Linked DNA regions of Homo sapiens: region 2 is reported to be linked to region 1. The links are microRNA targets in miRTarBase. Many come from high-throughput screens and were not tested one by one. Region 1 holds a microRNA gene; the other region holds the end of a gene's coding sequence.

Evidence for each region. The annotated mature microRNA hsa-miR-1289 reads UGGAGUCCAGGAAUCUGCAUUUU and lies in region 1 at 2,280-2,302, shown strand. An mRNA with a match to its seed (bases 2 to 7 or 8) in the 3' UTR can be bound and repressed. Matches are read on the target gene's strand: a 7mer-m8 pairs with bases 2 to 8, a 7mer-A1 pairs with bases 2 to 7 and ends in A, and an 8mer does both.
Region 2: the mRNA of NUBPL is a reported target of hsa-miR-1289. Seed matches in the 3' UTR shown: 7mer-A1 at 2,485-2,491.

Annotation. Positions count from the first base shown.
Region 1 is chr5:133,425,518-133,429,916 of GRCh38, reverse strand. It overlaps MIR1289-2 (microRNA 1289-2), which reads left to right and starts at 2,211; the gene lies at 2,211-2,321. All of the region lies in intron 3 of FSTL4 (follistatin like 4), which reads left to right.
Region 2 is chr14:31,858,384-31,862,782 of GRCh38, reverse strand. It overlaps NUBPL (NUBP iron-sulfur cluster assembly factor, mitochondrial), which reads right to left. Exons shown (of 11, transcript NM_025152.3): 11 at 1,559-3,665. The coding sequence ends at 3,603. Among named protein-coding and RNA genes, the nearest start is that of LINC02313, 84 kb to the left of the region's middle.

The DNA of each region.
Region 1 (4,399 bases):
ATGTGAACTCTGGCACAGACCCAATTAACCTGAAATAGGAGAGAAGGGACTTTATCCTCTAATTGAGTTACATCTTGAGGTGGAGTGAGCTGATGGATTCTGGGAGGTCACTGAGGGATGGTGGCCTCATGCTGAAGGTGGATGCCTCACGGGGAATGGATTCCTAAACTTACCGTGCTCTGTTCTTCTTGTAGACAACCCAGGGAGTCCAGCAACCCATAGTACGGTGCATCCAAGAGTCCAGAAACCCATAGTACAGGGAATCCAAATGACCTGATAAGTCTTTAGGAGCCTGGAGATTCACAATCAAGAGGACAGGCCTACTTTTGAGGAAGGCAGGTTCTGGAGGGAGAGTGAGCTTAAAGTCAGCCCCCATTCCTGATATCTTCTCTTGGCTTGGCTGTTGTTCCAGCTTATGTGGTTTCTTCCCTTCATCCCTGGGGTGGGGGAGTCACGAGCATAGACCTGGTACCAGGCAGTCCTGGGGTAGAATCCTCATTCAGCCTGTGTTCCCACCAAGAAAATAGAAATAGGTTGTATTATTTCTACCTCCCTTGTGAGATTGTTGTGGAGATGATCATTTCCAGAGGGCACTTTAAGCAGAACTTGGCATGTGGTAAGAGCTCAGCCCACATCAGTGCCATTGCCATCGTCATCCTCAGGCTCATTTGAATTAAAGATGAAGGGGGCAGCTCCTCGGCATTCATGATTCCATGGGCTGTGGGCGTCCTACGAGCAGATTTCTGCTGATGTGAGCCAACGAGGGGCAAATCAGTTTAACCACATCTGGGACCCAGGTTAGGGCCCTCCGGAGAAGAGGCTTTCACAGGGTAATGCTCTATGGAAACTTTAGTGTTGGGTTTCTTCCCCTGATTTATGCTATCCTTAGGATCCCACTACTAGGGCCAGGAAGAAATAACTGAAGTTCCTGCATGTGAATAAGAAGGCAGTCACTTATTTCTGGAAACTACAGCTGAGACTTGGGGAAGCTGCTTAGGATGATGACATTTGCATTTCACACCATAACGGAAATGGTGCCTCTGTGTGTCGTAGTTTACTCTTAACAATGAAGCATTGCATGCCCACTACATGCCAGCCCTGGGCTGGCATTGACAATTAACAGAAAAACCCTTTGGAAGAGTCATGTTAAGTTTAGTGGCCATAGAGCAAGGAGCATCCAGGATGAGAGAGCCCTCAATATCTGGAGTCGAGGTTGCTTCTGCAGAGAGTGAGGACAGGAGCCCCTATATGCAGCACCTCTGCACCTGGGCAGTCACTTGTGCTGTGTGACCACTTGGTGCTCAGGGCCTCGGTCTCTGCAGCTGCTGCCATGCTGAGAACAGCACAGGTGCCAGTTCACACAGGTCTCATGCCCAGGATGTCCTTAGCAGATGCCTCACAGTGGATAGCTGGAACCCAGAATGGACCTGACCCTTCTGTTGTTCGTGTCCTGTTGGCTCTGGACAGGGTACCCTCCACAAGCATGTCAAGCAAGGCCCTGGGCAGCCCCTACCCATGGTCCAGTTGGAGGTGGCAGCAAGGTGAGCTTAGTAAGGCACCAGCTTAGGGCAGCTAGGGCAAGCCAGAGAGTCAGAGATCACAGCCCAGATGGTGCAGCAGGCCCTACTTCTGCCATGATGCGTATGACAGATTACATCATCTGTCTGGCATACCCAGGTAAAATAGATCAAGAGTCCTGCCAGTTCCACACATTGGCTGCAATCCCTTTTATACACACACAGTTTTTCATCGTGTAAGTGTATGGCAATGATATTATTACAGGGATAAATTTAAATCCACTTGAAATTCATTATCATAAAACAACTCATTTCCAACTCAGCACACCTGAGGTATTGTTATTCACACATTACTTGTGACCTCCCAACTCACACAAGTTGATATCTGGGTATAGAGTGTGATTTTTCTCCCATTAGGGACTCCAGAAGAGTTCTTGAAATAGCTGCCTCCCCAGCTCCACCTCTCACCCCTTGTGCCTGCCCAATGTTTCCAGAAGGCGCAACTATAGACAGCAAAGGTCCTGTGTGCACCTCCCCAGAGAAACCCAAACCCTCACACTTCTCTGGAGCCACATGGCCAGATGAAACCTCTGAGAAGGAACCAAAGCCTTGTCTGTCCTGATGGCAGAAGTTGCAACCCTGTAGGGCTTCTCAACATGTGATCTAAGACCACAGCTTTGTAACCTAACTCAGCCACGGTCCTAGTTAAAAAGGCACATTCCTAGACCCTGCCTCAGAACTACTGAACAGAGTCACTGGGTGTGGAGTCCAGGAATCTGCATTTTTACCCCTATCGCCCCCGCCATTCCCGCCCTTCCCCCCGCCATTGCGTGCACTAATTGCTGGAAGCACTCATGAGGAGAGCCGCCTGTGTTGTGTAGAACTCCCACCCCCGCAACACACACTCACTCACCCTTTCACTTACCAACAGTTTCCTGGGCTTGGGAGGTCTGGAGAAGGCAGTAGCCCTGCAAATTGAGAAAGGCAAGCCTCGGAAGTGGACTCTTATATCTCTACTGCCAAAAGGGGCTACATCCTCTCAGGCCCCTGGGTTCATTCCTTGAGAACAGGGCTCAGCTGTGGGAGCTGATAAAACAAGGCACCCTTCCAGTTACTGAGCACCTTCTGGTGGCCCACACTGTGCTGGGCATTGCACATGAGCCGTCTCTCGTCCTTGGGGAAGATAGTAGTTGTTATCCATGCTCTATAGGTGTGGAAACTGAGGCCCAGAGAGGTTATGTGGCTGGTCCAAGGTCACACAGCTGAAGTGAGATTGTAACCCAGGGCTGCCTGACTCCAGAGCCTGTGTGTTCTCCAGTGGTGACATTGCTGGGGTAGTCTTGGGGGGCAGTGTGAGCTAGTTCATAGGATGGAAGAGTACTGTGAGGAATGTTGGGGTATTTCAAGGTTTGATAAACCAAAATTCCTCTGGGCCGTTGGGCATTTGAGAGACGGAACACTGAGAACATAAGACATGCTGAGATTTAGGTTGTTTTAGAACCTGAAATCTCAGCTTACTCCTCCCAGAACTTGTGCTGACTTTCGGAAAAAGGAAACATTTTAGCCTGGTTTGGGTTCTGGATTGCAGTAGCAGTGGTGTTTGCTAAACTAAAGAAGGGAACTGGAGCTTCTATCAGTGCATTATTAAAGCAGAACTGGCTGACTGTCTCCCTGGGAAATAACAGGACTGAGGCTTGTGCCTCCAGCCAGAGATTGCTCCTCCATAGCCCCCATTGCCACCGCTTCTACTACTTTTGCCTCCACTCCCCAGCCACCCAGTGATCCACCCTGCCAGAATGCACAATGCCGGCATTGATCATTCCCCAACCCACGGTACAGTTCAGTTTCCTCTGCTGCTAATTGGCCATGAGAGCTCCGTTATGAGGGATCAGAATTGTTAGTCTCTTCCTAATGATCTCTGTCTGGAGACCAACTTCATGACATTCTCCAATTAGGGAGTGCGGAGGGGGCAGGGCAGCGCTATTCATCTGCCCAGAACCCCCATGAAGTGACATGGGCTCATTATGCAGGAGACCCAAGCCACTGGTCCTGCGGGTCAGCACAGCCCAGGAGAGCCACGGAGGCAGGTCTCCCCCTCTCACCTCCCCAGACTCCCGGCTATCCTTTGCTCCCTGTGTCCTCCCTTCATGGCAAAGACTTTCCTTTGGTCAGGCTTGAAGGACAACACTCTGTCTTCTGCTAGCACACTCTGTGCTTTAAAAATTCCTAACTGGGAAAGATGACTTCTTTTGAGATCAAAGGCACACTCTCAGGGATGTTGGGGCAATGAGGAAGGTGAAAGCTACAGAGGAAGTCAAGACTGGTCCACTTCCAGCTCCCCATATGTGGAAGAAGAGAAGACCAAGGCCAAGAGAGAAGGGTCTTGCTCAGGGGGGGTCCCCAGCACTTAGACAGGAAGACTAGAGCCCCCCACGTCATTCCTGCTTCCCTTCTCCTCACCCTAACTTCAAATGCAGGCTCTTTATCCTATGTCCCTGTTCTCCCTTTGGACCCAGCCAGCTTCTGGATTTCTTCCGCCACTTGGCTTATCGTGCAGTGGACAAACCACACGGCTACACTTGACAGCCAGAAACTGGATCATAAGCTTTGAGGGCAGGATCCATATCTCCCTTATTCTCTGCTGTGTCCCAGGACCTAGCATCTCACCCACAGTAGGAACACAGAATTATTCAATGAGTGAATTAATTAATTAATGCTTTAACTTTAAAGTTCAAATGTAGAGTTTCAGAGAGGAACCCAGAAGGGCTATTCAAAGAAATGAATATCCAACAGTGGAAATTCAGATATTACAGAGTCTTGGGAGGTCAGTTGGGCATTAATTCTTTCCTCACAAGAGTCTGCTAATTACTTTTCCAGGTTTT
Region 2 (4,399 bases), not on the chromosome of region 1:
TTCCTTTCTAATCTATATGCCTTTATTTCTTTTTCTATTGCACTAGGAAAGACCTTAGGTATGATAATGAATAAAATGGTGAGCTTGGACAGCCTTGCAGTAGGTCTTTCACCATTAGCAATAATGTTAGTTGTAGTTCTTTGTTGATGCCTTTTATTAGGTTGAAAAAGTTGTTTTCTATTTCTAGTTTGCTAATTCTTATTGCAAATGAATGTTCAGTTTTGTTATATGCTTGGTCTATACCTATTCAAATAAACATGCTTTTTTTCTTTAGTCTGTTTTGCTTTACTGTTTCTTCTTGAATCTGCCATACATTGATTGATGTTCAAATGTTGAACCAACCTTGTGTTCCCAGGAAAATGACCTTGTAGTCATATGTATTATCCTTTTATATAATGCTGGATTCAATTAAGTAAGATTTGTTGAAGAATTTTCTGTCTATGTTTATGAGGAACATTTGTCTGTATTCTTCTTTTCTTGTATTGTCTTTGTCTTTGGTTTGCATATTAGGGTAATGCTGGCTTCACAAAATGAGTTGGAAAGTGCCCCCTCTATTTTCTGGTAAAGTTTGTGTAGAACTGGTATTATTCCTTCATTCAATGTTGGGTAGATTTTGACAGTAAAGGCATCTGGGGCTAGAGTTTTCTTTGTTGGTTCTTAACACAAATTATATTTTTAAAAGTAATTTATGACTACTCAGTCATAAATTATATTAAAGGAATATATCTATTCCATAAGTGAGCTTTGGTAGTTTCTTTCAAAGCATTTGTCTATTTCATCTAAGTCTTCAATTTAATGGGCATAAAGTTGTTTGTAATCTTTCTTATTGTCCTTTTCATGTCTGTAATAATGTCTCCTTTTCATTCCTGATTTGTTGATTTATGTCATCTTTCTTTCTCTCATTTCTTAATGAGCCTGGCTAAAGGTTTGCCAATTTTGTTCACCTTTTCAAAATATCAGTCTTTTATTTACACTCTACTGAGATGTGAAGAATGGAAAATAAATATCACTCCTTAACAAACAGGCAAACTACCTGTACTTCAGTCTACCTTTGGAGTTGGTGGCAAAATTTTAGAATAAGCTTAGTTCTTGTTTTATAGCTACTGTTCCTTCCTCCATGTCTAAACCTGCATATATATTCCAACCGCCATTTGTTTCAGTAGACTTCCTTGAAGCATCTGCAGACAACAGTCAAAAGAAGGAGGAGAAGAGGGCAGGGAATTTTATATGTGGATCTTCTCTCGGTCATGTATTTATGAGTAAAGACCACCTTTCCCATTTCCCTATGATATGTATTAAATGGTGACATACAACTTTAAGTCATTCTTTTTTGAAAAAAGTTAAGTTTGGTTTAAGTATTTTTTGTATTCACAAGTGCTCAATGATCATCTATATTTTCTTCTTCCTCAACAGACAATAAATACACAAAGAATATCTGAAACTTTAAGTCATTACTTCCTTCTCAGAGTGATATGATTACAGTGTGTCCACAAATAATTTTATTCATGATATTAATTAGTATAATTTGGTCCAGTAAATTTCAGTTCAGATATAGCAGTTTGTGTTTTTTTAACTTTTATTTTTATTTTGAGATAATTGTAGATTTACATGCAGTTGAAATAATACAGAGATTCCATGTGCCCTTCACCCAATTTCCCCCAGTGGTAACATCTTGCAAAACTATAGCACAATATCACAACTGGGATACTGACATCGATAGCTGTGATATAGAACATTTCCATCATCACAAGGATCCCTCATGTTTCTCACAGCCACGCCCAATTCTCTCCCATCCTCACCCCCTCCTTAACACAGCCACCACTAATCTGTTCTCCATTTCTATAATTATGTCACTTCAAGAACGTTATATAAATGGAATCTTTTGGTACAAAACCTTTTTAAATTGGCCTTTTTCATTCAGCATAATTCTCTGGAATTATAAGTTGCTGCCTGTACCCATAGTTTGTTCTTTTTTATTGCTGAGTAGCACTCACGGTATGAATGTACTATGGTTTGTTTAATCATTTACCCAATGAAGAAAATCTGGGTTGTTTTTGGTTATTACACATAAAATTGCAATAAACATCAATGTACATGTTTTTGTGTGAAAACATGCTTATAATAATGTGAAACTCTATGCCTAATTTTCTAGTTGACAACTGTAGAGCAACAGATGTCAAGACATTTGCCAAAAGTGACAGACCACTTCTTTATAAATGCGAATTAACTAATGGCTCACACTTATCAGTACTTGCAGCTTTAAAACTATCTGCTACCTGACTTTGAAAAGTCATTGACTCTATCTCTTTGAGCTTCAATTAGACAAGATAAATGTTTTTCAAAATGTATTATTTGAAATGTGAACTTCATGAAATGCTCTGAAAAAGGAGGGGGGTGGTGGATTTCATGGCCAAAAAAAGTTTGAGGAAATGCTAAATATTGCATCTCCCCCGACTTTTTTTTTTTTTTTTTTTTTTTTTGAGATGGAGTCGCACTCCATTGACCAGGCTGGAGTGCAGTGGTACAATCTCCACTCACTGCAACCTCAGCCTCCCGGGTTGAAATGATTCTCCTGCCTCAGCCTCCCGAGTAGCTGGGATTACAGGCATATGCCACCACACCCAGCTAATTTTTGTATTTTTAGTAGAGACGGGGTTTCACCATGTTGGTCAGGCTGGTCTTGAACTCCTGACCTCATGATCCACCCACCTCAACCTCCCAAAGTGCTGGGATTACAGGCGTGAGCCACCACGCCTAGCCACCACCGACTTTTTTTAATTAACAAAAGCACATTGGTGTACAAAAAGATGAATCTAATATCGAATTACTCAAGTTCAAATCCAAGCTCCATCACCTGCTAGATACAGTAACCCTCAGCAAGACACTCAAGGTTGAGTGCCTTCAAATTATATCTCAAATTACTTATCTGTAAAATGGAGATAATAGTACCCACTCACACAAATGGAAGAACAATTATAATTAACTTGTTAAATGTTAGCTATTATTCTTACTGCCATGATTACCAGAATCATCATCAACATCATCATGGTCTTACTAAAAATACATATGTTCAGGCTCCACTCCTGGAGACTGAAATTCATTAAGTCTGGGGTATAGTGTGATCCAGATGAAGAAGCAGAGGTTCATATTAAGAACATGTCCAAGACAGTACCAAAGACAGGATTCAAAGACAGTCCAAATTGCCTGGTGGGAAGGCGTAATACTTATGCCCATACACAAATTTAGTATATCATTTAAATTACTAATTCTGTGGTCCTGCAAAAAGTGTACAGTTCTCTCCCAAAATGGACTTGTAACATCATAAACTCGTGATTTCTAAAGGGGTAATTCAATAAAATAAAATGCAGTTCTTTGCAGGTGGTACACACCAGCTTTCAAAAAATTCCTAAATATAGCAGTTAACATTGATACATCAAAGTTTTGTGAACCTTAGCTTAGCAAGTCAAATATGAAGACATTCTTTCCTTAGAAATAAAACAGTTATGATTTCTATTATTTCTGTAGGTTCCATCACCACATTGCTGATTTCCAAAGGTCCTCTTAATGTCAGTACCAGGCAAATTTCCAGGACACTTGGGGAATCATTCTGAAGGTGATGGCAATCTTCTTACCACTTCCACAGCAATCCTCAAGTAAGCTTTGGCCTGGAAAAGAACAAACTTATTTGTTCTGTATTTCTCTTCAGCAGACATTGAATGACTCATCAACTGTTTGTTATAGAGGCCCACTGTATTTGATAGTAAAAAGGCTGAGTGAGATGAGGAAATTCAGTATTGAGAAGATAGTGCTGTATATATTGCAGGCGGCACAAGGAAGAAAGAATTTTAGATTATTTGGAGGGTAATTATTTGGAAGGTGACTCTGAAGTAATATTTAGTACCAGAAATTACTGTTTTTCAAATTCTAATTCTGGTGTCAGCAAACTAGCAACCCAGTCTAGTTGCAGAGAGATTACACCTTTTTGCTCTGAAAAATTGATATATTGAGTTAGAGACTGCCAAAACTTCTTTAGCATAAGAGCTGTTAGTCATTTTAAGGAGGACTATTTATTACCATGCTACAGTTTATCTTAGGAAAGCATTTTCTTCATCTCCCCGAGAATGGTGTGTAATACCAGCACCAAGCACCTATAGGCTCTTTCACCTGGTAAAAAATGGATATCATGCAAAAAATCCTAGTTCCATTGTTACACTCTTTATGTCTGGGATCCCAGTGTCATGGGACACTAACAGCAGCTCTTAAGCCACAGAGTGGGCCACAAGCTAACCTAATGCCTGCATGGTAATGATATTTGCATTTTAAGAGTTCCTTTAAATAAATGTAATGCAAAATTACTTATATCCTCTACTTTATTCATAAAAAGTAACTGTAGAACACA